4 linked regions of the Homo sapiens genome follow. The protein of the gene in region 1 purifies or fractionates together with the protein of each later gene. This does not show direct contact. Each region holds a gene or a part of one and is shown on either strand. Other genes may lie near its edges.

Region 1 (6,974 bases):
ACTTATAGGAGGTTTTAACTATCATACAGCTACTAAAGCATTGGGCATTTTATTTATAGGAGGTTACTTCATAGAACTCTATAAATAATAAAACTTTTGCTTACTTTCACAACACATTGCAATTTCCCCAGCCTCTTACACAATAACTTCTTCTGAGAGTTTCCAAACACCATAAGCTCTGTCTGGTCCAGGGATTAGAGAACCAAAGTTCAAGTCCTAACTCTCCACTGACAAGCCTGCTCACCTCCAGGGCCCTGGGCTTCTCCGAGCCCATTTTCTGCTGTTGTGAGAATCACCTGAGAAAAGGAGAGGCTCTGCCTCATTACTGATCTGTAACCTGCCTCCTCTTCTAAAGTTGTTGGTTTAATTTTTAAGCTCACTTTGGTTGTTCATCTGCCCTCAGTCATTTAATTAATCTAAGTTATCTTAGCAATGTGGGAATTAGAGCAAAGAACAAGAATCACTTATTCATTCAACAATATACCTGAGAGCTTACTGCCACAAGACACTCATGAGAGCTAGCATTTATGGTGGATACTCTATATGCCAGGCACAGGGGTAAGTACTTTGTAATGCATTCACTCATAGACGTCTACACCAATCCTACAAGTAGAATATTATTATTGGTATCCCCAAGTTAGAATTAAAAGTCTAGGCTCAAGAGCCAGACTCCCTGGGTCTAAATCCGTGCTTTGTCTGCTCACTCTTGGTGATCTTGATCAAGCTATGTGACACACCTGTGCCTCCATTTCCCCACCTGTAAAATAGGGAATGCTGATAATAGCGTCTACCTCATAGGGTTCTTGTCGGATTGAGTACATGGGCGTGCAATAAGCACTAGAAGTAGTCATGTCAGGAAAAGGTTAATTACCTTCCTCAAACCTCCACCAGAGTTAGATGAACAGCAGAGATTCGAACTCAGTTCTATTGGATTATGAGGTCTGAGCTCTAAACAAGTGGTGAAAAGCTCCACGGCCTCTCGGAAATTTTTTATAAAAATACAAAACTACACAAATGTAAAACGCGGCAAAGACACTAACAAGGCATTTGAGACTGACAACTAGCTTTCCCACCGCTTGGCCACTGGAATCATCTCCAGAGGCAGCAACTCATAAACAAACAACCGGAGTCGCCCTGCCTTAGCACAGAGCTGGCAGCGCCCGCGAGGCCACTTATCGCTGGCTCTGGCCTTGGCAACCTCCACCCCCGTCCCGGTCCTCTCAGCCTATCTCTGGAAACCACTCTTTTCACTCCGAATCTCAACTTGAAGTTTGGGGAAACTTGACGCAGCCAAAGCCCATCCTCTGCTCTGCACCTGGCAGGAGACTAATAGTCAGGGAAGATGGGCATGTTGTGGGTGGGGGTGGAGAACGGTGTGTCCCTGACCTGCCCTGACATGCTAACCTGGATGCGCTGTTGTCTTGGCCTTCAGCGCCACGTATTTTCCCTCGACAGTAACTTGGCAAGCTTTTCATGTCACTCTGGCATCGCTCAGATTATCAGCTACCCTTCAGAAAAAGAGCCCTGCGTTTCGATGGCTAAGGAACTCTGACAGGAAGAGGAGAGGTCCCGACTAGAGGAGGGGGCAGCATTCATCTTTTGGCACCGGTGAGTCAGTTTGCGAAGTTGGCGGCAGCGAGACCCCGAGGCATCTGGGAGACCCCGGAGTTCTGACTGCCCTACTCCGCTTTCGTTTCCTTCCCCCCACCCCTGGCTTCCCGGGTATTGGAAGCCAGCTGGGTCCCCGGGGTCGCAGGCCGCCCAGAGGTTCGAGCCGCGCGCCGGGGTGGGGCAGCGCGGGGCACCGCCTCCCTCCATACCTTCTCTCCCCGTGGAGCACATAGGAGCTGCGGAAGAAGCCCAGGAGCTCATTCTCGATGAGCGCGTTGTAGATAATCTTCAGATTGTAATTCCTCTGCGCGTCCAGTGTCCTATTCAGCACCACCACTAAGACCTGGGTTTGCGGGTAGAGGAAAAAACCGGCTACAGGGACAGCCCCGAACGCCCGGTCCTCGGCCAGCTGCACTTTCTCCACCGCCACTCGGGAAGCGTGCAGCACTACGTAGCGGGTGGCGTTCCGGCACGCGATCTCCACGTTGACCTCCCCGGAGAAGGTGAAGTTCTCCATGAAGGCGGTGAGCATCAGATTGTAGTGCAGCGGCTTCAGGTGGCCCGACAGGCGCAGCTGCGTCCACGGCTCCCACGGCTCCCGCTCCTCCTCCGACGGCGGCTGGGCCGACGTGGTCCCCGGACTGGCCACCCCACCCGCCTCGGGCTGCCAGGAGTCCCCGCCTGCGTGGTGGTTGCGCCGGGCCGATCCAGGGAGGCTCCCGTTGCCGCCGCGCTCCGGAAAGCCTGAGGGGCCACCGTCGGCGCCTGGCGTGGCACTCGCCCCGCACTCGTCGAAGCGCAGGCTGAGCAGCACAGCGAGCATTGTGACCGCGAGCAATGCCACGAGGGACACAGCGAAGGCCAGCACAAGCCGCTTGTGTACGGCGATGTGGCGCTCCGTGGTGCGGGGTCGCACTCCCACTGAGTCTGCCCACGGGTCGGAGAGCCCCCTGCTGCCAGCCCGAAGCGCGGCGTCGTCTTCCCCCATCGCGGCTGCGAAGGGTGAGCTGCTCTTCTCGGCCCCCTCCTCCTCCTCCTCCTCCTCCTTCTTCTTCTTCCTCTTCTTTTTCTTCTTCTTTTTCTTCTCCTCCTCTTGCTCCCCCAGCTCGCCGTCCAGGGCCATCACACCGCCTCCTCCTCCTCCCCCGCCCCCTCTGGCACCCCCCGCGGGCGGGCCACCCGGGCCACAGCCAGAGCAGGCATCGGAGAGCTCACGCGGGCCGAGGGCGCGCGACTGGGGATGCTGGCCCGGGTTCTTTTAAGACGGGTTCTGGACACAAGCGACGGCAGCTTCCGCGACCCCCATCAGCCCCGCCTCACTCTGGACACCGGGCTGTGAGCTCTGGGACGCGCCCAACTTGGAAAGCGTCTTGCTTGCCCAGCGCGCGCTACTTCTCGGACGAGCACCCGGCGGCGGGGCACATGCTGCCCCCGCCCCTGCGCGCCTGCGGCTCCCGGCTCTCCCTCCCCTGCGCCGCGCTCTCGCCTCGCTTTCCGCGGGAGCCTTCCAACCGGTTCTCGGCTAGGGAGAAGGACGGGAGCGGTGGGAAGAGCGAGGGTGTAGAGAGGGAAGTTAGGGCTTTCGCTTTCTCCCCCCACTCCAGCGGCGGCGTTCGGTCCTCTGGGTGGAATGTGCTCGCAGCAGCAGTGACGGCGGCCACAGCACGGGAGGCACCCGAGCCATACACCCTGCAGCTGGAGAGAAAAGGATGGCCGAGGTGGGAGAGACTAGAGTGAACCAGCAGGAGGAAGTCCCAGGGCCGCGAAGCTACGACGGAGATCCGTCCTGGAAAAGCCTTCTCCACCCTGGGCACTTTAAGCGGCGGTGGCGGCAAACGGCAGGAGGTTGCAGACCCGACAGCGAGACTCCCTCATTCCAGTCTTGCTCTGCCCTCCGGAGATGACAAGTGAGAAAGAAGTGTCCGGCCGGGCCATCCCCTTCAGGTAGATGAAGCTCTGGGTTTGCTCCATATCCCAAGGGGGAGAGCCGAAGTGCGTATGTCCGAGCGCGTGTGCATGTGTGTGCGCGTGTGTGCGTGTGTGTATATACACAGGCTTCGGGTTTAGATTGCCAGGGCTACTCCAGCTGCATTGAGGGACTGAAACTCCCAGAGAAAGGCAAAGGAGAGGGAGCGCGCGAGGAGGCAGGAAAGGCGGGAGGGAGGGGAGCGACTGAGCGGCAGAGGCAGGCACTGGGAGATTAGAGAGCTTTTCTCCGCTCTGTCACACCAGACACCCACAGCCACAGAGGGGGTTGCTGAGCCGCCTGCAAGAAGTACATTGTAAATCTTCAGCGCAACAAGCCCCGCAGTCACCCCTCTTCCTGACTCCTTAGCCCCACCGCGCTCCAGGGAGAGATCCTTGGAGCCTTTGGCTATTAACATAGAGAGCAAAAGAAGATCCTGCTAGGGAGATGTGGCTGTGTCAGATTTCACATCAAGCTCGCCAGAGGATTTGGAGGATTGTATGTAAATTGAAATAAATTCTCCAAAACCTGACTACATATATTACATTATACTGTGCGATGTGTCCAGGTGTGCAGTACTAAAATAATGTTAGCAATGAAGCATTAAAATCCTCCGGAAGTAAAGGCCAAAGCAAGGTGATGTTTTCCCCATAGGATAATTCCCATCTTTAGATTGGAGAAACGATTAACACACAATGTCTACAGTGTAACATTCAGGACCAAAACCCTGAGACTGAGAAAAGCTGGGCTTATTAGAACGGTGAACGAATACATTCCATGATTGGTCAGTTTTTCATTTCACCTAGCCATAATTACTTTCTTGCAGCTTTCCAGTGTTACCATGAACATTGTTTTAACTTTGTTAGGATAGTTATCAATAGACCAGTTTGCTGACAGCAGGCAGCATCAAAATAGGTTCATAGCCCATTGGCTGGTTATGGACTCTTGTCTGAGTATATTGGAGTTTAAAATTATACTGCAGAGTATGTATAAGTATGTGGGATATCCAACCTTCAGAATTTGTGCGAAGAACTCTAATTGGAACAATATTCAGAAAACAGCCACCCCAAAGGTGACATCTAGGAAGCAGGAGTCTCCAGTGTTTAGTAAAACAAAGTGTGATTGGCTTCTGGGTTAATTAAAAAAGTGAATAATAGAAAATTAGGTAATTCCTTTTTACATGTTTCTTTCATGTCTTCAAATCTTGAAGGCATTTTACAAATCATGTCCATAGCTATTTTCTTACAAAAAGAACTGGTTAATGCTTCTGGCTTTGGAGTACTGAAAATAGACAATTAAAATATTGTGTTTGGCTTTAAAAGCATGACCAAAGAGAAGAGACCAATTACACATTAACCTTAGCTTGATAACCACTAAAAACACAGCCCTGCTCGAGGAAGCCCTTTTTCATTTATCCCCAGATGGGATACATGCTCAATGCCATGCATTCTAAATGTCCATTTGAATCATTTTTAAATGATGATGAAAATAAGTGCCAGGGTGGGATTTTTTAAGCATGTTGTATGTGGGCCGTTAGCAACAGACCAAGGGAAATGCCACATTCTGTTCAAGTTACTTTTTTCTGCTCTGTTTTTAAATGTCTGTACTCTTGCTGTCCATATGTATCTGGCTGTATGCATTTTAAGAGTTGAGGAGTTGGGGTTCATTGGTTTGTTTTCACAGAATCAGGAACTATAGTGCAAGCAAGTAAGAGGAGCCCTGCGATCCTCAGCAGGTCACCAGACTTCTCTGACTTTAGGGTTTTAAACTGGTAATTTAGTATTACTGATCCAATATCCATGGATTGAGTACATTTGATTATCAGAGGCTTCTGGAATCATCCCGGGGAGTCTAAGACCCACTGCCTAAAGGAAGAGGTTACCCACTAAGGGATCTTTAAGACTTTCTCTTTCTAAAACATTAGTCAAGAAAAGATTCAAAGAAGGCTTTTTCTGTTTGTCTTTTTTTAAAAATGTGTACAAATTTGTGGGATACATGAGAAATTTTGTTACATGCACATAATATGTAGTGATCAAAATCAGGGTATTTAAGGTGTCCATCACCTGAGTACAATACATTTTTGCAAGGTATAGTCACCCTACTGTGCTCTCAAACAGTGAACAGCCAGATTCCTTCTGTCTTGCTGTGTGTTTGTACCCTTTAACCCAGTTCTCTTCATCTTTCCCCTTTCCCTCACTCACGGTTCTCAGTCTGTTATCTCTTTCCTCTCTTTACCTCCATCTGTTCTTCTTTGTATTTCACTAATGTGTTTATGTACTTCTGAAAATTACTACAAGGAAAGTCTCAAATATTTCAGAATTAAATAATACATTTACCAATTAATAAAGTCTCTACTAACTGTGATTAAATTAGTAAATGGATTATTTTTTCAGACCCAAGTGGAGTGGACATAAGATTATTAATATAGAATGGACACAACTTACTAGCTCATGGATTCCCCTTAAATGTAACTTTGCATAATAAAACTTACTATCAAGATCAAGTAGGTAAATATTTCTTCCTTTCATATCAGTGTTACAAAGGTCTTCAGTGAGTTTTATTTTTTTAATTTCTGAAAATATATAGCACGCTTTCCCAAAGAAGCAAGCACTTTAGTAAAATAATTTTTAAATATTATTTTTTCTAGAGAATGTCCATTCTACCTTCAAAGCAAAAGTGGGGGGGTGAAATTTCAGAGTTCGCACCTCACAAAAATAAAGACATAGTTTACTAATATTCCTTTTTAAGGTTGCTTTCAGTGTTATAGGTCACTGGATTCAAGATAGGTTTGATTTTACCAATACTGGGACCATGTGGTGCTGTAAACAAGGAAATTAAACTTCCTAAAGTACCTGATGTTTCTCTCAGAAACATGTTTATTTGTTAGGAGAATTTTATGATTACTTTATTTAGCTAATAAATATCACTAAAGTCATGATGTGGCCATATTTGATTCAGGGGCTTGTAAAAGTAAAAATTGTCTGAATATTTAATATACATGAGGCCAAACAGAAGTTGTTTTTAATAAAATCTACACCTTGGTCCTGAAATGATCAAAATGAACTATCTTCAGTGAATGTATTGGCTCCAGGGTCTTACTATTTGATTGTTTACAATTTAACTGCCTTTTTTGTTTCTTTTCACACTGGTTTGTATATAGAAGCACATAGTTAGGTGTCCTCGGGTACTCAGTCTCTTCACATGTGAGTAAAACCTCATGTCCAGAAACAGCTTGGCTCGGGGGAAAGAACTAGATCCTGATCACCTTCATCTTCCTCTATTGTCCTAACCCAGTACTTAATGGACTCAATTTCTCAATATGTTAGTGTAAAGGAGTTAGATTTGGGGGTATCTTTCAGCTCTGGACTTCTGTGAAAAATATACAGTACAGAAGCTA
Region 2 (6,646 bases), on another chromosome or scaffold:
CATAAGGAAAGATCCAAATGGCTAGATTCTTCATCTGAATCAGAAATCATTGTTTCTCGTTATTTTCATGGCAACCCCGCATTTCGTTTAATCAGAGGGTATTTTATAGCACTGATTTACGCAGTAGGCATAAATCAGTGTGTCCACCTGCTACACACGATAAAACCCTAAACCAAAACAACAGTGATAATAACCATCACCCTCCCTCCTCCCCCTCGAAAAACCAAAAACACTTTCTTCAGTGCTAAGAATTAACTATTAACTATCATGCTAAAGGTCAAGACTTAATGCATATTTCAAAAGAATTTAAATCAAACCACAGCTTTTCTTACAAATATACCTATACAGAGCAGATAATCAGAGGCACAAAGTGTCACTGTACCCCTCTCCTTCCACTACCTGTCCATCTTCCTCACTTTTGGTATAAAATTTAGAATAACAGGTAAGAAAATCAGTACAACTGCTGAGGAAATTGGTGTTGAAGAATTTTTCACAAAATCAGTTATCTCCCAAATAAACTTTATTTTGAAAAGAATATCACAATATAGTCATGTAAATTTAAATATGGCACACTGAGCAGTATTGACGCAAATTATATAGTCATGTAACCATGTTTCGGTCAATGTACAATATATATATGATGGTGGCCCCACAGATTATAATGGAGTTGAAAAATTCCTGTCACCTGCTAGGGATGTCTTGATCCTGACCCTGCATAGGCCTAGGCTAGTGTGTTTGTCTTGGTTTTTGACCAAAAAGTTTAAAAATTCAAAATTTAAATAGATAAAAGCTTATATAATAAGGATATAAGGAAAATATTTTTGTACAGCTATGCAATGTGTGTTTTAAGCTACGTTATTACTAGAAGAGTCCAAAAATTGTTTTTAAATAAGTTTCTAAACTAGAAAATTTACAGTAAGCTAAGGTTAGTTTTTTATTATTTCTATAAAAATTATAGAATTTTTTTTTTTGAGACAGAGTCTTGCTCCTCTGTCACCCAGACTAGAGTGCAGTGGTTCGATCTTGGCTCACTGCAACCTCCACCTCCTGGATTCAAGCAATTCTCCTGCCTCAGCCTCTCAATTAGCTGGGACTACACGCATGTGCCACCACACCTGGCTAATTATCGTATTTTTAGTAGAGATGGGGTTTAGCCATGTTGGCCCGGCTGGTCCCAAACTCATGACCTCGAGTGATCCACCCACCTTGGCCTCCCATAATGCTGGGATTATAGGCATAAGGCACCATGCCCAACCAGAAGAAAAACATTTTTTATAAATTTTAGTGTCACCTAAGTGTACGGTGTTTATAAAGTCTACAGTAGTGTACAGTAATGTCCTAGGCCTTTACATTCACTCACCACTGACTCATCCAGAGCAACTTCCAGTTCTGTAAGCTCCGTTAGTAAGTGCCCTATACAGGTATACCATATATATATATATACACACACCATATATATATATACTATATATATATATACCATATATATGGTATATATATATATATAGTATATATATATATATATATTTTTTTTTTTAGATGGGGAGTCACTCTGTCACCCAGGCTGGAGTGCAGTGGTATGATCATGGCTCACTGCAGCCTTGACCTTGCCAGGCTCAGGTGATCCTCCAACCTCAGCTTTTGTACTTTTAGCAGAGACGGGGTTTCGCCATGTTGCCCAGGCTGGTCTTGAGCTTCTGGGCTCAAGCAATCCACCTGCTGAGGCAGCCTCCCAAAGTGCTAGGATTACAGGCGTGAACCACTGCACCTGACCAGATTTTTTACAAAATCTTTTATACCATATTGTTATTGTTGTAGTATCTTTTCTGTGTTTAGATGTTTGAATAAACAGACACTTGCCATTGTGTTACAATTGCCTACATGATTCAGAACAGCAACATGCTGTAGCCTAGGAGCAATAGGCTATATACATGTCCTACATGTGTAGCAGGCTACACTATCTAGGTTTGTGTAAGTACACTCTATGATGTTCCCACAACGATGAAATAACCTAATTAGACATTTCTCAGAGTGCATCTCCATCATTAAGTGAGGTATGACTGTACATGTGAAGTCACAGTTCATGTCTGATTATTCCCACTAATAGAAGAGTACAAAGGTACAGTGAAACCAAAAAAAAGAGCAGATAACTTAAAAACCATAACTTGTGCATATGTTTTCATTTTATACTTGTGTCCAAATGTTTAGATGAGAACTGATACAAATTCACAGGTTTTTAAAAATGCTGCCTGAATAATCAAAACTCTTTTTACTTTTCTTGCCCTACTATAGATAGCATCAGTAATGTTTATACAGAGTAGCACCATCGGACAAACTACTTTCCCTTCTCCCATCATAGAGTATAAGGCTGTCTGTATTATGGCTTAAAACATTAGCAATGACTTAATAGTTTTCAACATACAGCTGATTTTGTTGGAGAAAGGTGTTACAGTATAGTCTTGTTAAGAACTTTATGTTTTACTGAGGAAAATGTCAACATATAATCAGTGAAAGTGGTCTACATATGATGTAATAATTGTTCATAATTCTTTTTAAACAACAAATGGGGGTAAATATGAATGAAAGAAGTAAAACACATCTGGAACCTCGCGTTGTTCAGGGTTTTTGAGGCAATTCAGAGCTAACTGCAAGATTATGCTATGAAACTGAAGCCATTTCTATATCATAGTGAGAATTCTAATGTACCAGAAACAGGCAGAAAGCCATCTTCAGAGAATGAAGACTCAAAGATAAACAACGGCACAGCAAACTGAAGAGAGAATTAGACCCCAGGGAAATTTTCACTTTTCATTAGTAGAGGGCAGTAGAAGACACTGAACTTGGGGACTGAATACTGGTTCTGCAGGTTAGTGCTGACCCTGGGCATAACAGTCAATCTTTTTGAATGACAATTTCCTCGTCTATAAATTAGGTACAGTGAGATCCACCAGCTTGTTTTATGACTCAGAGCCATGAAAAGCGAAGATAATAATGCACTTAATATCATTTTGTACACTATAAAGGGCTACTCTTAGAAAATGAAGATTTGATAACTTTAAAAAAAAGAATTAAAGATAAAAGCCAATTTAAAATAAAATTATATATATTTTTTTCTTTTTTAAAATCCAGGATAGGTATTTATTCAATAGTAGCTGCTGTAGGTCTGCTTCTTTTTTTTTTTTTGAGATGGAGTCTTGCTCTGTCACCCAGGCTGGAGTGCAGTGGCACAATCTTGGCTCACTGCAACCTCCGCCTCCCGGGTTCAAGCAAATCTCCTGTCTCAGCCTCCCGAGTAGCTGGGACTACAGGTGTGCACCACCACGCCTGGCTAATTTTTGTATTTTTAGTAGAGACAAGGTTTCACCATGTTGGCCAGGCTGGTCTTGAACTCCTGATCTCAAGTGATCCACCCTCCTTGGCCCCCAAAGTGCTGGGATTACAGGCATGAGCCACCACACCCAGCTAACTTCAGTTTTTGATGAGACAGAAATGGGAAAATGTAGACTGGTTTACTACTTTATCTTATGATACAATGTTATTGTAGTATAATATACTATAGACTACCCATTAAAGAACCAGGAAGGATATTCCGCTAGCCTTAAGAAGTAAATATTGAATATAAATATAACTTTCTACCTCATCTATAACATATTGATACATTTTATTACAAAGAAACTCACACATAAATGATTTGTCCTATTTATCATAATAGGCCACCAATCACTAGGAGCCAAGCTTCATCAGCTTAAGTCCTAGGTAGCATGTCTCAATGCATACATATTTATATGTTATTAACCGTGTTTCTTTTCTTTTTTTCGAGACAGAGTGTCCAGGCTGGAGGTGATCTCGGCTTACCGCAACCTCCGCCTCCGGGTTCAAGTGATTCTGCCGCCTCAGCCTTCCTGGGTAGCTGGGATTACAGGCACGCATCACCACGCCCGGCTACTTTTGTATTTTTAGTAGAGATAGGGTTTCTCCGTGTTGGTCAGGCTGGTCTCGAACTCCCAACCTCAGGTGATCCGCCCGCCTCAGCCTCCCAAAGTGCTGGGATTACAGGCATGAGCCACCATGCCTGGCTATTAACCTTGTTTCTAACTTCAGCATTGCACATCTCCTTAGTAAAGCAGTAGCCATTAACAAGTCAGGTCCAACAACCATTTTCCTCTGGTCCTCAAGCAGAGACTCAGAGCCAGTTACACATAAACTATTTCATTATAACATGAAAATAGCAAGCCTTGGGCTATTGCAAAAGGCTTTTCAAATGTTGACCTCTAACTTGGAGAAAATAGAGGGAAGCAGAAATATAGGGTGCTAATTTGTGCTATAACCTGGTCTCATGTCGTGGTATATTCCCAGTTGCAACATTTTAAATTTATAAGTGAGAAAGTAAAACAAAGCTTCATATCTGTGAAAGTGAAAAATTGTCCAGAAGTCTTCTATTCAAAGACCAATTAGCTTTTTCTTCCCAATAACTTATCAGAAAGAAATGGGTACTTAGAAACCTAAGGGGTTCTTTAAATAGGAGTCAGAAAAAATATATAAAAATAAAAAACAAAGCAAGAAAGAACATTGTATAAAAATAAAATGTTCTTTAAAGATGACTGCCCTCTCTTGAAAGATGAGTGCTATATTAAAAGGGTAGATGTATCTCTATAACTCATCGTGTTTATATGTAAATTCTCTGGCAGATATAAACCCATCTTTGTCTTCATCTTCTTTATCAAAAATATCCTCCACCAAAGCATCATGATGACTTTCATTCACCACCGCACCATGTTTTTCAAACTCCTTCTTTAAATATGCTTTAACCTACAAAATAACAGATCCCATTAATAACTTGGATTCATAAGATACCCACATTGAGCCAATCAATATCACAGACATGGACTGTTATTATATTTAGTTCATTAACTAAATATAATACCTTCTAAACAGCCATTTTATGACATAGTTTTAATGATAATTAAAAAATAATAGAAACTTTTTCCCTTAAAAAAACTGTTGCTAAACTGCTAAAGTGGAGACACAAAATATTGCTCAAAGGCAGGGCCAGGTGTGGTGGCTCATGCCTGTTATCCCAGCACTTTGGGAGGCCCAAGTGGGAAGATTGCTTGAGGTCAGGAGTTGGAGATCAGCCTGGCCGACATAATGAAAGCCCATCTCCACTAAAAATACAAAAAAAAGTTAGCCAGGCATGATGGCATGCGTCTGTAATCCCAGCTATTCAGGAGGCTGAGGCAGTTGAATCGCTTGAACCTGGAAGGCAGAGGTTGCAGTGAATCGAGATTGCGCTGCTGCCCTCCAGCCTGGGCAACAGAGTGAGACTCTGTCAAAAAAATAAAAAATTAAAAAATTAAAAATATATATATATATATAGCTCTCTCTATATATATATTGCTCAAAGGCAGAGATAAAGCTTATGTCATGTATACAATCCTCATATAGGGCTTATATTATTGGAGAATACCCAATGAGAGCATACTACTTGTTCTTAATCTGAATCTAAATACTAGGCATTTCTTTTCTTTTTTTAGACAGAATCTTTTTTTTTTTTTTTTTGAGACGGAGTCTCACTCTGTTGCCCAGGCTGGAGTGCAGTGGCGCAATCTCGGCTCACTGCAAGCTCCGCCTCCCGGGTTCACGCCATTCTCCTGCCTCAGCCTCCCGAGTAGCTGGGACTACAGGCGCCCGCCACCACGCCCAGCTAATTTTTTGTATTTTTAGTAGAGACGGCGTTTCACCGTGTTAGCCAGGATGGTCTCGATCTCCTGACCTCGTGATCTGCCCGCCTCGGCCTCCCAAAGTGCTGGGATTACAGGCGTGAGCCACCGCGCCCGGCCTTTTAGACAGAATCTTGCTCTGTCACCCAGGCTGGAGTGCAGTGGCACCATCTCAGCTCACTGCAACCTCTGCCTCCCAGGCTCAAGCAATCCTCCTACCTCAGCCTCACACGTACCTGGGACTTACAGGCATGTGCTACCACATCTGGCTTTTATATTTTTTGTAGAGATGGGGTTTCACCATGTTGCCCAGGCTGGTCTTGAACTCCTGGGCTCAAGCAATCTAAACCCCTCAGCCTCCCAAAGTGCTGGGATTAGAAGCATGAGCCACTGCACCCCATGGACACTTCTCTTAAAACTAGATTAAATAGTGGCATCTTTGACTTGAATAAATGTCTGCAAGTAGTGGGTCTTTTGGGTTTTGGTTATGATCATGTGATTAGATTGAGTCTAATCACAACCTTTCAATCTCAGAAAGTCAGGTCTGATAAGTGCCTAGACTACAATTTTCCATTTTCATTTGTTTTTTTGTTTTTCTTTTTTTTTTGAAATAGAGTCTTGCTCTGTCACGCAGGCTGGAGTATAGTGGCACGATCTCGGCCCACTACAACTTCCAACTCCCAGGTTCAAGCGATTCACCTGCCTCAGACTCCCTAGTAGCTGGGATTACAGGCACCTGCCACCATGCCTGGCTAATTTTTGTATTTTTAGTAGAGACAGGGTTTCACCAAGTTGGCCAGGCTGGCCTCGAACTCCTGACCTCAGAAGATTTGCCTGCCTTGGCCTCCCAAAGTGCTGGGATTACAGGTGTGAGCCACCATGCCCGGACTCCATTTTCATTTCATTCAGATATTTAAAAATATAAA
Region 3 (7,030 bases), on another chromosome or scaffold:
GTTCAAGGCTAAGATGCAGTAGAGCAGCTGCGGTTTACACGAACCAAAGGGCATCGTAGAAACCTGGTGCCTACAGGATAAAGGGGGCGAGTTGTCAGGAGTTCCCTATGGCCTGAATATAAGCAATTTATTGAGCCTTTATATGTTTATAAAACTCTAAGTCCATCATGCTACCTTGGGCCTAAACTCTCCCCAAACTCAGCTGATTTTGAGTTGGGGCAAAGGGGTCAGAATGTTGGCATCAGGCAGTGCCCTGGCCAGGCTTTCTGGTTAAATAGTTATTTGACAAGGCTGTGCTTTTTCATTCTTATAGCTTAACTCAATAAAAATAGTACGCTTAAACCTGCAGCACTCCTAAAAGAAACGCTATGATGAAAATTACTCAGAGACATGAGCAGAAAGGGGTGGGAGAGCAGAAAAAGGAAGTGATGCCATTATCTCTAGTGTGCTGAGATCTAAGAGACATCTGTCTCTACTTGGAAGCGTGACATCTGGAAAGAGAAGTCCCCTGCACACAGCTACGTCCCTCTGCCTTCCCTTCCTGCTCGCCACCAGCACCCCTTCCTTCCTCTACCGGGAGAGGAACAGTGGGAAGGCAGGGTCCAGCTGAGGCTCAACCTGTGTGTGGGGCCAGGGGAAGCTAAAGCCAGCTGGGGAGGGCGGGCTGCCCCATTCTCCACATGCTGCTGCCACTGGGCTGCAGGCCGGGCTAGTCCTGGGTCCCAGGCAGGGAGTCAGCCTCTGCTGGTCACCCAGTGCCTGGGAGGCAGACCCTGTGGCCAGGACACACCCCCACTTGTGGGGATACCTGTGAGTAATTCCCTATGAATCACTCATGGGTCACTCAGACTCGAGTGGGGGTAAGGCTGGGCAACTTGGGAAAAAGGAACAAAAGAGGATGCCTGCTGAGAGAGTGTGAAGGCCTGATGCTCCCCGCACCTGTGAAAATGGGAGCGAGTCCATCTGGGAAGGAGGGCTCAACTCCGTGGCTACACTGCATAGGGAATAAAGGGCCTCGAGCCTCCTTTCCATTTATAACCTAATTTGTTCATAAGTGATGAGATTCTGCTCAAAAAAACTATCGATACACGAGATACATGAAGCTGTGAATGCTGAAAAGGGAGATCTCTAGGCTTTTTTTTTTTTTTTAAAGAGACAGGATTATGCTGTACTGCTCAGGCTGGAGTGCAGTGGTGTGATCATAGCTCACTGCAGCCTCAGACTCCTGGGCTCAAGGGGTCCTCCTGCCTCAGCCTCTCAAGTAGGTGGAATCACAGGTGCACATCACCACACCCAGCTAATGTTTAATTTGTACAGACAGGATCTCACTGTGTTGCCCAGGCTGGTCTTGAACGCCTGTGCTCAAGTGATCCTGCTGCCTTGGCCTCCCAAAGTGTTGGGATTACAGGCATGAGCCACCGCGCCCAGCCATTTCTAAGGCTTTTTATACTGTCTATTTGAACGCTAATTTTAAAAACAAGAAAAAGGGAAAGCAAGAAAAACAAAAAAACCTGTGGCCACCTACAGCATCACCGGAGCCACCAGGGCCCTTCACCCTGTGTCTGCTGTGTTTACAGGCCCTCTCTCTTCCAAGGCTGGAGGCCTGGGGGTTTATAGGTAGAGAAAGGGAGAAAAGTTCAGTCATGAATAGATTAAACATCCATTCTAGGGTATGGAGGGTTTAAGTAATAGGTAATTTTCCTGAGTGATTACTAAGTCCAGGACATTAGTTAATCCTCCACTGTTTACAAGCATGGATGAGCAGGGATTTCAACGGAAGTAATCACTCCCCAGCTCAAAATCCTTCAATAGTTTCTCACGGTACTTAAAATCCAACTCCTTTATCACAGCCTAGAAAGCCTGCCTGATCTCATTCCTACCCTCGCTTTGACCTCATTGCTGATGACCTTCTGCCTTGCTTATACGCTTGGCCATACCACTATTCTGGGTTTTTCAAAAGAACTTCCTCATAGCCTTTGAGAATGCTGTTCCCTCTGCCTGGACCATTTTCTCAAAAGTATATATTTTTTTGTATTTTTTGTAGGGACAGGGACTCCCTGTGTTGCCCAGGCTGGTCTCGAACTCTTGGGCTCAAGCGATACACCCGTCTGAGCCTCGCAAAGTGCTGGGATTACAGGCGTAAGCCACTGTGCCCAGACTTGTGGACCTTTTGTCTCCCGACCCCCATCTCCAAAAAAAAAATTGTCCAGGTGCACTGGCTCATGCCCGTAATTCCCAGCACATGTAATTACAGCACATGCCTGAATCCCAGGCTGAGGCAGGCGAATCACTGGAGTCCAAGAGTTTGAGACCAGCCTGGGCAACATGGTGAAACCCATCTCTAAAAAAATAAATAAATAAATAACAAAAAATTAGCTGGGTGCGATGGCACGTGCCAGTAGTACTAGCTACCTGGGTGGCTGAGGTGGGAGGATCACCTGAACCTAGGAAAGTTGAGGCTGCAGTTAGCTGTGATTGCACCACTGTACTCTAGCCTGGGTGACAGAGCAAGATCCTGTCTCAAATATATATATATCTGACCGGGTGCAATGTCTCATGCTTGTAATCCCAGCACTTTGGGAGGCTGAGATGGGTGGATCACCTGAGGTCAGGAGTTCGAGACCAGCCTGACTAACATGGTGAAACCTTGTCTCTACTAAAAATACAAAAATTAGCTGGATGTGGTGGCAGACACCTGTAATCCCAGCTACTTGGGAGGCTGAGGCAGGAGAATCGCTTGAACCCGGGAGGCGGAGGTTGCAGTGAGCCAAGATCACGCCACTGCACTCCAGCCCCAGCAACAAAGGGAGACTCCATCTCAAAAACAATTATATATATTTATTTATTCATTATATATATGCAATATATACATATGCTATATATATATATGCCCTTAACAGAAGGATATAAAAGAGACTTAGATCTATTTAAGCATCAGCTGAAGGCCCTTCTTCTCCCCTGTTGGCTGCTTCTTGGATAATTCAGCCTCACCTCAGTGATGCTTCCAAAGGAAACAGGATCTGTGAAGAGGGCAACAGGCTGAGTAGAAACACCACAGTGTGTGTTCCCGGTCTGGCGATCTGCTTACTGGTCCAAAACCATCACACATCTTCACCTCTGGATCTGTGCTCACTGTGGTAGATATCATGACCACCATTAATCCCCCTTCCCTCCCCAAACATACCAGCCACGTCACCCTTCAAGAGCAGACCTGCTTTGACAATAGAATGTGGCAGTGATGCCACTCCAGCTCTGGGCTAGCCTGTGGGAGGCCCAGCAGCTTCCACTTTCCCTTGACAGTCGCCATAGTCTGACTACTTGACACCGCCATGCTGTGAGGAAGCCCAGGTTGGCCACATGGAGAGAGGGGCCAGGTGGAGGAGCACCGAGGCACCAGACATATGACTGAGTCTTCACAGACCTTCCAGTCAACCGCAAGCTGAATGCAGCTGAGTGGGCGACTCAAGCTGATGCCACATAGAGCAGAAGAACCGCTGAGCCAAGCCCTGCCGGGGTTCCTGACCTACAGAATAATGGAAACTAATACATCTTTGTTGTTTTAAGCCAGCAAGATTTGGAATGGGTTGTTATAAAGCAATAAATAGCTAATCCACAATGTCCTCCCCTCCTGCTTTCTGAATCCCACCCATCCCTCAATCAGATCCAGTAACACCTCCTCCTGGAAGCTTCTCTCATCTCACCTTATTCCTCACCCCATCAGCCTCTGTACTCTGCTCGGTAAATACCTACACTGAGGGCTCAGCTCAGGGCTCTCTCCTGAGAATCCCTCCCTGACTTCCACTGTGGGTGCTTCTCTGAACACTCAAGGTGGCTCATGCACACCACACCCCATTCCTGTGACCATCTGTCTGCTTGTTTCCCCATCAGACTTTTATCCACATACTCCCCCACACAGCCATTACCTACCACATAATAGGGGCTCAGTAAGAGCTTATGAACTAAAGGGATAAACTGCTATGCCACAAACAATCTCATTCATCTCTCTGCAGACCTGTGAGTCTCTTTCCCACTGTGATTGCAAATGCTTTAGAATAAGGATTATGCCTACTTATCTCCAGGTCCCCCAAGAGCCTTGCACATCGTAGGCACTCAATAAACATTCTGTTGACTTTTAACTGATTGACATGTCACTTTCATTGTGACCTTAGCTCCAGATTCTCCCATGCACCTCTGATACTCAGGTTCCAGGTCTCCTAGACCTGGATGCTAGACAAGGGCAGAGGAGGCTCTGCTTGTTTATTTCTGGCTCTTTTCCAATCAATGAAATTCTCAAAACTCCATGCAGTCTACACTCACCACAATGAGTTCAGTCCAAAGGGATAATGTTTTGTATGGCACATTCTCTTTTAAAAGAATTCACCCCCCAACTCCTACTGCAACAGACAAATGCGAAAATGTTAACACAGCTTCCCACGCCACCAGGGAGTTCCAAATCAACTGGAAATATCTGATTCAACCTGTTATCGTAAGACACAGACCAGACAGCGTTGTCACCACAAGGGACAATCATTCTATGAACACATACATGGTCTTGTGACCTCTACTCAACATTCCAGAGATAGAGGAGCTGAGTGGCCCTGGAGTGGGGGAAGGGCTGGGTTATAAATAGTGAGGTGCAGTGGGCTGGACACTCGGGTGGCGGCCAGATTCCTGGTCCTCCTGGGCCTAGGTGACTCGTCATCTGCAAGATAAGCACAGTGCTCTGGGGACATCCAGGGCATTTTCCCACCTACCTCGGACCCTCTCCACCCTCCTGAGCTGCCAGGACCTGGCCCTGGCTCTCCCTGACCAAGCCAGAGCTCGCCTGCTTCCCACGTTCTAGCCTACGCTGCCTTGGGTTTTATGTCTCATCTGGGACTTGATCATAAAATCCCAAGGTTCACAGAGGCCATGAAATCTCAGTTCCTTGTGCAAGGGCCTGTGTCACCCAGAGCGGAACCAGGTCAGGGAGGTAAAAGTCCCAAAGGCAAGGATGGGAGAAAAGAAAACAGGGAGGGGGAGGTCAGGAATAGGTTCCTTCTAGCACAAAGCAGGCCCCTCAACAAGTCCCCATGGACCAAGTAAGTCTGCACTCAGTTCTGGGAGACACACAGTCATCATGGCTGGACTGCAAGAAAACAATTCTTGGACGCAGCCTGGCCTGGTTTCCATCCTGGCTCCCCCACTGAACAGCCACATGACTTTGGGCACATTTTCCCTGTTGGAAAACAGCCTTTCTGTGAGGCCATGATAGGATTCAGTCCCCCTGAAGTGACCAAGCCAGTGCTGTACATAGAAAGTGTTCAAAAACGCGAGCTCCCTCTTCCTTCCTTTCACGCCCAGACTCCGACTAGAGAGGGCTAGCTTATGTCGGAGGCTGTCTCAGAGTACAAACCCAGGTACAAGAGAAGCTCTGTCCTTTGAGAAGGCTGCGTTTAGCACCCACAAGTAACAAAAAAATCTTATTACATATATTATTCATTCATTCACATTCATTCATTCAACAAACATTTGTTGAGTGCCTAAGGTGTAGCCAGCATTGCTCTCAGCACTACTGCTGAGCTTCCTGGATGCAGGCACTATGGAGCTTTAGATACTTCCTGTCCCTAAACTGCTCTCATCCACGGTCCTGTGTCTGGAAACAAATATGACAGCATCCTATCTGCCATCAGCTAAGCCCTGAAGATGATAACGACACAGATAAAAAGTGATGCTTGAAGAGAGGTACGTAGGAGACTCCCTAGGTAGAAGAGAGGACAACACCCACTGCCCCAAGCTGTTATGCCAAAAATCTGACCCCAACTCTGAGCTCACCAGCCTGATTCTACAGATAATATTTGGCTATCCATCTGTGGGAAGAACCAGTTTTCCTTTTTTATTTTCAATGTGTTGTGAACTGATATTTTTGTAAATTACGTAGATCATGTGCTTAAATACTGCAATGTTGTTTGTTTATTTATTTGAGATGGAGCCTCACTCTGTTGCCCAGGCTGGAGTGCAGTGATGCAATCTCGGCTCACCTTAACCTCTGCCTCCCAGGTTCAAGCAATTCTCCCACCTCAGCCTCCCGACTAGCTGGGACTACAGGCGCGTGCCACCACACCCAGCTAATTTTTGTATTTTTAGTAGGGACGGATTTTCGCCATGTTGGCCAGGTTGATCTCGAATGCCTGACCTCAGGTGATCCACCCTCCTTTGACTCCCAGAGTGCTGGGATTACAGGCATGAGCCACTGCAACCAGTCTGTCAAATTATTTTAGAAGTTCCTAAATATTAACACTGAGAATATATATTTATCTTATTGCTACTCAGCACCAGATAATTCAGGCACCAATCTATGAACCACATTTGGGTAGGACTGATGGCATTTAGTTCATTCCGTGAACTGTCCAAAATCTAGCATAATACTGTCACATTTTTACCTCATGAAGTTTCAACAATATCAAAAATGAACAAAAAATTATTTTTAAAATGTTGTTGCGTGCTGCAAAGAAATACAAGAAATAGAATTGTAATATTCAACTTACTTGCTGATGGCTGAAATTTGACCAGATCTTGCAAATCAGTAGAAATCTGGAAGACGTGGCTGTAGAACTGCTGGACTGAATTCTTCAGGCCAGAAATGTCTCTGGAATGCGACCTGAGCGTTCCGTTCATCTGCCTGACACAGTTCCACAGGCTGCTGACATGCTTGTTGAGCCCCTCCTTGATCCTCTGAAGATTTCCTGAGATAGAGTCCAGCTTGCTGCAAGTTTTCTCCATATGAGACACCCTGCCCTCCACCATGGAGACCTCCCTCTGGACCCCCTGCGTGCATTCCTTACAAGCATCCAGCTCCGAGATGACCTGGCTCTGCAACCTCTGCCACCTCTCCTCCAGCTGACTGCAGCAATGAGCCACGGGGTGCTGGGGGGACGGCAGGGTGTCCACTGTCCTTTCTTGCTCACCCACCTTAGTGAACCTACCCATGCCAGCGTTTTCACCTGCTCTACAATTGCTCATTTCCTTTTGAAGATGAGTCACATCATTT
Region 4 (7,030 bases), on another chromosome or scaffold:
AAATCTGTTACTGCTGGCTGGTTAGGGTAATGTGTTGAGGAATCACAACAAAGCTCAGAGATGAAGTATGCTGTGTGGATTCACCATGTCTATAATGGGAAAAAGAAAGTGGTGGTATCTGTGTTGAGAATATGCTAACCTTGTTTTTATAGATTTTCCCTTAATCTCATAACTATTTCCTAAAATTTACTTTCTGTCATGGTGGGTTCAAATACACAACGTACACAATGACAAAAACTCCTCTGTGGTAGATACTTCTCTAACAAAACTTTAATGAAATATGGTATATTATAAAAGATTATTAGGTGTGACATTTGTAAATTATACCTAAAATAATATATTCTAGTTAAATGGACATAAGAAGAAAATCCACAGGTTGGATCTATATAGTGATTACCATGTAAGTGCTTGCTTGTATCAAAATATCAGTATAGTGATTTATTCTTTTATTTTCCCCTAGAAAATGATTACTACTACTGTATTAATTTCCTAAGGCCTGATCATTCTCTGAGAAATGGCAAATTCCAAAATTTTAAATAAATTAAACATTAATAATGCTTTTCAATAACATAATTTGTGTCAAAACCACTGTTTAAAAATAAAATAAATTTTGTCATCTGGTCTATTTTATAAAAAATTTAGTGCTAATTTTTGTTTCTGAATGGATGTCTTTATACTCTGAAGATTTATAGGCATTATTTTTTAGCATTATTCTATTGCTCTTCTTAATGGAACACCTAAGAAATAACATTTATGTAATAGGATATATATTAATTTTTTACTATAGTTATAAACATTAACTGTAAGAATACAGTGCATTTTATTTAGTTTTTAAGGAGATTTATTTTTCGTACACAAGTGATCAATTTGTCACAACATGACAAGTTATTGATAACAAGTATTTTAACTTACAGGTATGATAAAAGTCTAACATTTACAAAATGGGGATATTACTATATAAAAAATTGAAAGTATTAGTTTTTATGTAAAATATTAGTTTCTTCATTCTGATACAGTGCTAAACTTAATGTAAAGCCAAACTTCAGGACCTACTCTAGACATAAAATAATTTTCATTTCCATGTCTCTAGAATCTAAAATGCTAAGTAAATTTTCTCTATTACTTTTCGTCAAAATAACTTAAAGTATTAAAAGACAACCTAATGACAGTAATAACATTTTTCTTTCCTAAAAAATATTTGGTATCTGATTTAAAGACATGAATAACACAATAGTAACAACTTAAAGATCGACAAGATATACTAAAAATGATATTTGGGCATCATATCTACATAATAATTGTGAAACAACTGTTTTCCTAATAACTGAGAAGCAATCAGTAACTTTTTCATAAAAGGACTTTCATAGCTTCTAAAATATGGAATTCAGCACTGTAAAGCAGAAACACTAAACATGTCAAAACACCTAGCGTGGTATAGGTAACCACAAATCTGCAAATGACACACTGTGCTGTAGATAGCAGGCCGTCCTAACACAATTTGGTCATGGTAAGGTTTAATTTATGTAATTAAATTAAATAAAAAATAAGAGTATTAATTTAAAGCCATTTCAGGTTCACAGCAAAATTGAGAGGAAGGTACAGTGATTTTGTTATTCTTAAGAATTTCCTCATTATTGTAGAGTTATCCAGAGTCTAAATACTAAGACAATAAAGTTGATTAAATTATTTTAAAGACATGACATGAAGCATGTACATTATCTTTAAGGGGTTTTCTTTTTTTCTTCAATAGATATCCCAAATATACACACAATCCTATTTATTTGGGTCTAGGATGTAAATATAATTTAACTGTGTGCTAAGTGCTTTAGGTAGCACAAGCATTTATCTATTGTAAAATGAAAATTCAATTGCCATCAAATCAGAATTTTGATTTCAGTCAGAAATGCAATAAATTATGCCATAAGGAATATATTTGTATACATTTTGTCTCAGATATTTTCTCATGTGGTATTGTGAAGGGTAACAAGTATAATATTATCTGTAAAGAATTTAAAAAAATATTTTTAAATATAACTAATAGTATATACTGATTTTGACAGTTTTCTTTCCAGAACTCAAAACGAAAGCTATTTTTAAAAATTAGGTGATTTTGATAACTATTAAACTTTAATCAATGCATTAAGAAACAGGCAGCTGGCGATCTAATGCATAAGTTGCTCTTTCCTTACTGTATTTTTCAGACCACTTGCGAGTCAGTTCTAGGTAAAGACCTGGTTTATGAGGACGGTAATCTAGGTACACTGTATTACTGGTTCTTTTGGGAACAGCTTTTTCAATCTGAGTTCCTTCATGCCACTCATTAAAAGAGGTGATAGAAATTAAGCTGGGGCGTGTCTGAAGTGCGGCACTCAGACCAATTTCATAATACTTCCCATTGATTCGGTTCCGAGTGTTTTGCGTGTTCCATGGACGGATGCTGGTATCTATGTATCCTGGGCCCACACTTGGGATAAATATTAAGTTGTATTTATCACAAAATAATTTTAGGCTAGCCCAATTCTGATGTGATGAGCCATAAGTAAAGCCATTTGTGGCAAAATATGTGTAAATTCCATCAAAACCACTTTGAAGAATATCATACTTATGTTTTTCTTCTACCAGAAGGGCAATAAACAGTCCATCATAAGGAGAATTGCGAATACTCCGAGACCCTGAGGTGGTTAACAGATTGGCCCATTTTTCAGGCTTGGTAATATAGGAATCATAGACATAAAACATAGGAAGAGCATTGCCAGTCTTCGTCTTGTACCTGTAAAAGGCCGGATGATTTCCATATCTAGAAAATAAGCATATATAAAAGTGAAATGAATATTCACAACTAATTTGCCACAGACAAAAACTGTTTACTGAAAATGAAGGAGTCAGTGCAGTTTGAGCACACTGCTCCATTTCTTAGGGGAATCAGTTGTGTAAGTGTAATAATTAAAAATGCATTTTTAATTTTACACATTAGAAAATGAGATACTGGATGCATTACCAAACAAGTATTAACCATCTCATATTGAGGTTTACAAATGATGACTAATGCCATAAAAAGCCTATGTCTCTACATTATAAATAATACTCTACATAATACCTAAACTGCTTTTTTATCTATCAGTGATAAATGTTCTACTGTTGCTGACAAGTTTCTTTGTAAGACTATGGCATCTGTCACAGACTATTATCAGTAAAATTCTTTCAAAAAATGAAAACTGTATTAATAAATTCTTTTTGATCAGGCTAGATATAAATGAAAATATCAGCTCTGGGTCTACTGTGTTAAAAGAAGTAGTTCACTTTTAATAATCTGAACCTTCTTTTTAAAAAGATAAAGCTATATTCTGAAGGTTTAGAAAATAATGTCATTTTAAAATATCAAAACTACAGAAATCATAAATAGCCTATAAACCTGTAAAACAGTAAAAACAGCAATCTTCCAAAAAGAAAGTGAATTATAAGAAACTTCAGCAATGTTCTTCGAAATGATGGTGACATTCATTACAATAACAATTTAATTTTATTAAAAATGGAATAATCATAAATCATTCAAATCTCAAATATAATTTAATGTACTATTCTTAAAACAATAATTATCACTGGATAATATAACAATATTTATAAATATTGAAGAAACTCACTTGTCTATAATATACTTGACATTTTTGTACATGTTTTGATCATCTCGATTGCTATATGGTTCTATGTGAAAAGTAACCTAAAACAAACAATAAAATCAGTTAGGGGATAAATTATCTATAATGTAAAATTAGAAGTATACTTAATATATTTAATAAAGTAACTGATTTAATCACCTTAATTAAAGATGAATATTTATTGAACACAGAAACTACCAGAGAATTTTTACCAATAAAATTTACTGCTAAATAACATGCTAAACATTTTATATTATTATCTTGGTTAATCTTCACAACTCCCTAAGGTATTTCTGTTTTCTTAGTGAGGTAATCAAAGATAGACAGAACCTTAAGAAAGGTTCAGTAAGTTGTTCCAGGTCACCCAGTTTGTTGGAGGTAATATTGATGATCTGAATTCCGAGTTCAAATGCTTAACTGCTGTGCAATGCTTCTTTTTATGTTTACTCCTTATAAAAATGTTTCTTACATATTTGTATCCCATATAATATATATAGGAAATACTCTATATTCAGATATATGTTTCTTTTAGGAAAAAGACCAAAAAAATATGGTCCAGAAAAATCTGGATTTTTTTCAGGCATGTGACCATTAAGCTTAAATTTAAATAGAAGTCATTAGCAAATTTATTTACATATAAATTCTTCCATATCATTAAAACAGCATTTTACAAAATAATATACATTAACTTCTATTAAAGAATTTATAATGAAATCGCTTAAAAATAATATCCACTAGTGTTATAAAGGACATTTTTCATGATGCCTAGGTATTTATGGTTTGGATATCCCATACACACACACACACACACACACACACACACACACCTACATACATATATACGCACACATACATACATTATATATATATATGTAAACATAGAGAGCAGTAATTACAAATATTTTTAAAATACTGTGCACAGACTAAAATTTTTTAACTTAAGGTTGGCTATACATAAATCAAGACAAACTAATTATGGCTAGTAAAACCATTCTGTATGCTACTTCTAACTAGTAAGGTAAAAAATACAGAAGATACTTCTCTTAGATGACAATCTATTTCAGATTCATAAAACAAAGAATGAGGATTTTCACTTTTATTCCTAGTTTTACTGACTTACCAACATCAACTAAAAATCTTTATGGCAGTCTAATAAATGTATTGATACTGTTTTAATTTTAGGTTTCAGGCTCTATGATGTATTTATGGAACTAGAGACTTCTATTGCAATATGAAACTCCTCTGTTTTCAATTACCCAATTAAAGCAAAATGTATTTTACATTAATCAGTGCTACTTGTTTTCACATAATTAATTTTAAAGTTAAATAATATTTAAAAAAAATATAATTTTCTACTTTAAATGAGATTACAGTAATATTATAAAAGTAAGTTTCTGTCATAAAAAACTAAGGTCAAATTAATTTTTGCAGCATATTGTTAGTATTGCCAGGGTAGTAACTGCTAGGGCAGCTAGATTTCTCAATAACTTTGGTATTTGCTTTTTAAATTCAGTTGAAAGCAAATTGCCTAGTGTATAGGTATTTTCATACTATTACATAATGTTTCCTTGGGTAATTCTTCCTTCAGTTACATCACTGTGTTTTCTAAATTTCCATTTTATACATAAAGGACACCATATTTAAGCAATATCCAACTTGAAATATCCTATATCAAAATGAATTTGCTTTTACAGCTGCAAACAACAAATAGCATGCTATTTTTGTAAAGCGCAGATCAATATATTTAAAGTAAATATAGTATTGATAAGTATAAAATATTTAAAATTTTCCCTCATGTATTTCTAATTTCTTAATTATAATAAAATTACTTTGCAATTTTTTTTTTTTTTTTTTTTTTTTTTGAGACGGAGTCTCGCTCTGTCGCCCAGGCCGGACTGCGGACTGCAGTGGCGCAATCTCGGCTCACTGCAAGCTCCGCTTCCCGGGTTCACGCCATTCTCCTGCCTCAGCCTCCCGAGTAGCTGGGACTACAGGCGCCCGCCACCGCGCCCGGCTAATTTTTTGTATTTTTAGTAGAGACGGGGTTTCACCTTGTTAGCCAGGATGGTCTCGATCTCCTGACCTCATGATCCACCCGCCTCGGCCTCCCAAAGTGCTGGGATTACAGGCGTGAGCCACCGCGCCCGGCCATTACTTTGCAATTTTAATTAATGATGTGATCTAGTCTCCATCTCTCTATTCCATTTGGAAAAATCAATTAGATCAATGTTAAAATAAATTTTAAAATAACAGAATTCTATACATAAAATGAAATGTCTTTCTTATCTTTAAAGAATAAGAATATAAACATTCCCTCATTTCATGTTTTTAATTTTGACCTTTCCTGTCTCTTCCCTACCCTGCATTTTAATAACTTTAATAAATAAATTTTAATAAAATGAACTTTTTTGAATGAAAATCTGATAACTTTCTCCTTCTCCAACTCTATTCTCTACCTTCACCCCTGCACACTCCCCTATCCCCTGCCACAACAAAATTGAGGTAGGTCTTCCTACTCCTATGTGGTGCCATAATACCTCATACTTTTCTCTTCCTGAAATTTACTTGTCTTTGTGTCTGACCTCCAGTAGATTACAAGGCATTTTAGGGAAAGAGATAATACTTCATCCTTCTTCTTAATATTGTCAGCATCTGGGACTGTATCTGACACGTAGCAGGTGCTAAATGAATGAATGCATGCATAAATAAATGGACTAATGATTTGCATGCAAAAACAAACAACAGTTAAACTCTTAAGTCTGTCACTTATACTGGATTTAGGTAAGATTCCCAAAGTTTCTGCCATGAATTCACAATATTCATTTAACAAGGAAAAAGAAAAAGGAGAGGCCATGACTAATATAACATGTTTCAAATGTAGGTGAAAATCATTTAAAAAAGAATCACGGACATACTTATATTCATGTTTCACATGGTTGAAATCTGCATAAGCCTGAAAAGCAGATAAAATGACTCTAGAGCCATATGCAAAGAAATAATGGATGTTGATAAACCTAGTATAAGAAATGTGATTTCTGCATAAAGTAGAAAGAAAATATGCTACTTTAAAATAACATACTAAATTTATTAAAATGAAAGAAGATCACCAGGGCTGAGTTGGTTCTTTCCCCTATAATCCTAAGCAAAAAAAAAAAAAAAAAAAAAAAAAAAATCACTGAATCTGCCTAATTTTCTTTTACTTAGATGAATGATTTAATTCAGTCAAGTTTTGATTAGATAATGCCATGTAACAACCCCACAATCTCAGTGGCTCTAAAAGACAAACATTTGCTTTTCGAACATAAAATCTATGAACTGGCTTATGATGGTTCTGCTCCAGGCTGGTTCAAATCAGCTCCACGTGTCTGTCATTC

What was found.
Region 2: the proteins of TRHDE (region 1) and FKBP14 purify together in Homo sapiens (affinity purification with mass spectrometry; 2 studies listed by BioGRID and IntAct, with this or other methods). This does not show direct contact.
Region 3: the proteins of TRHDE (region 1) and EMILIN2 purify together in Homo sapiens (affinity purification with mass spectrometry; 2 studies listed by BioGRID and IntAct, with this or other methods). This does not show direct contact.
Region 4: the proteins of TRHDE (region 1) and MANEA purify together in Homo sapiens (affinity purification with mass spectrometry; 2 studies listed by BioGRID and IntAct, with this or other methods). This does not show direct contact.

The regions. Positions count from the first base shown.
Region 1 is NC_000012.12:72,268,404-72,275,377, reverse strand, and holds the start of TRHDE (thyrotropin-releasing hormone-degrading ectoenzyme), read right to left. Parts: upstream 3,009-6,974; 5' UTR 2,735-3,008; coding exon 1,821-2,734; intron 1-1,820. UniProt on the Homo sapiens protein: Specific inactivation of TRH after its release.
Region 2 is NC_000007.14:30,010,085-30,016,730, forward strand, and holds the end of FKBP14 (peptidyl-prolyl cis-trans isomerase FKBP14 precursor), read right to left. Parts: intron 4,810-6,646; coding exon 4,651-4,809; 3' UTR 503-4,650; downstream 1-502. UniProt on the Homo sapiens protein: PPIase which accelerates the folding of proteins during protein synthesis. Has a preference for substrates containing 4-hydroxylproline modifications, including type III collagen. May also target type VI and type X collagens.
Region 3 is NC_000018.10:2,891,984-2,899,013, reverse strand, and holds part of EMILIN2 (EMILIN-2 precursor), read right to left. Parts: coding exon 6,528-7,030; intron 3,133-6,527; coding exon of another isoform or gene 2,993-3,132; exon of another isoform or gene 2,824-2,992; intron 1-2,823. UniProt on the Homo sapiens protein: May be responsible for anchoring smooth muscle cells to elastic fibers, and may be involved not only in the formation of the elastic fiber, but also in the processes that regulate vessel assembly. Has cell adhesive capacity.
Region 4 is NC_000006.12:95,601,515-95,608,544, reverse strand, and holds part of MANEA (glycoprotein endo-alpha-1,2-mannosidase), read right to left. Parts: intron 3,719-7,030; coding exon 3,642-3,718; intron 2,798-3,641; coding exon 2,140-2,797; 3' UTR 1-2,139.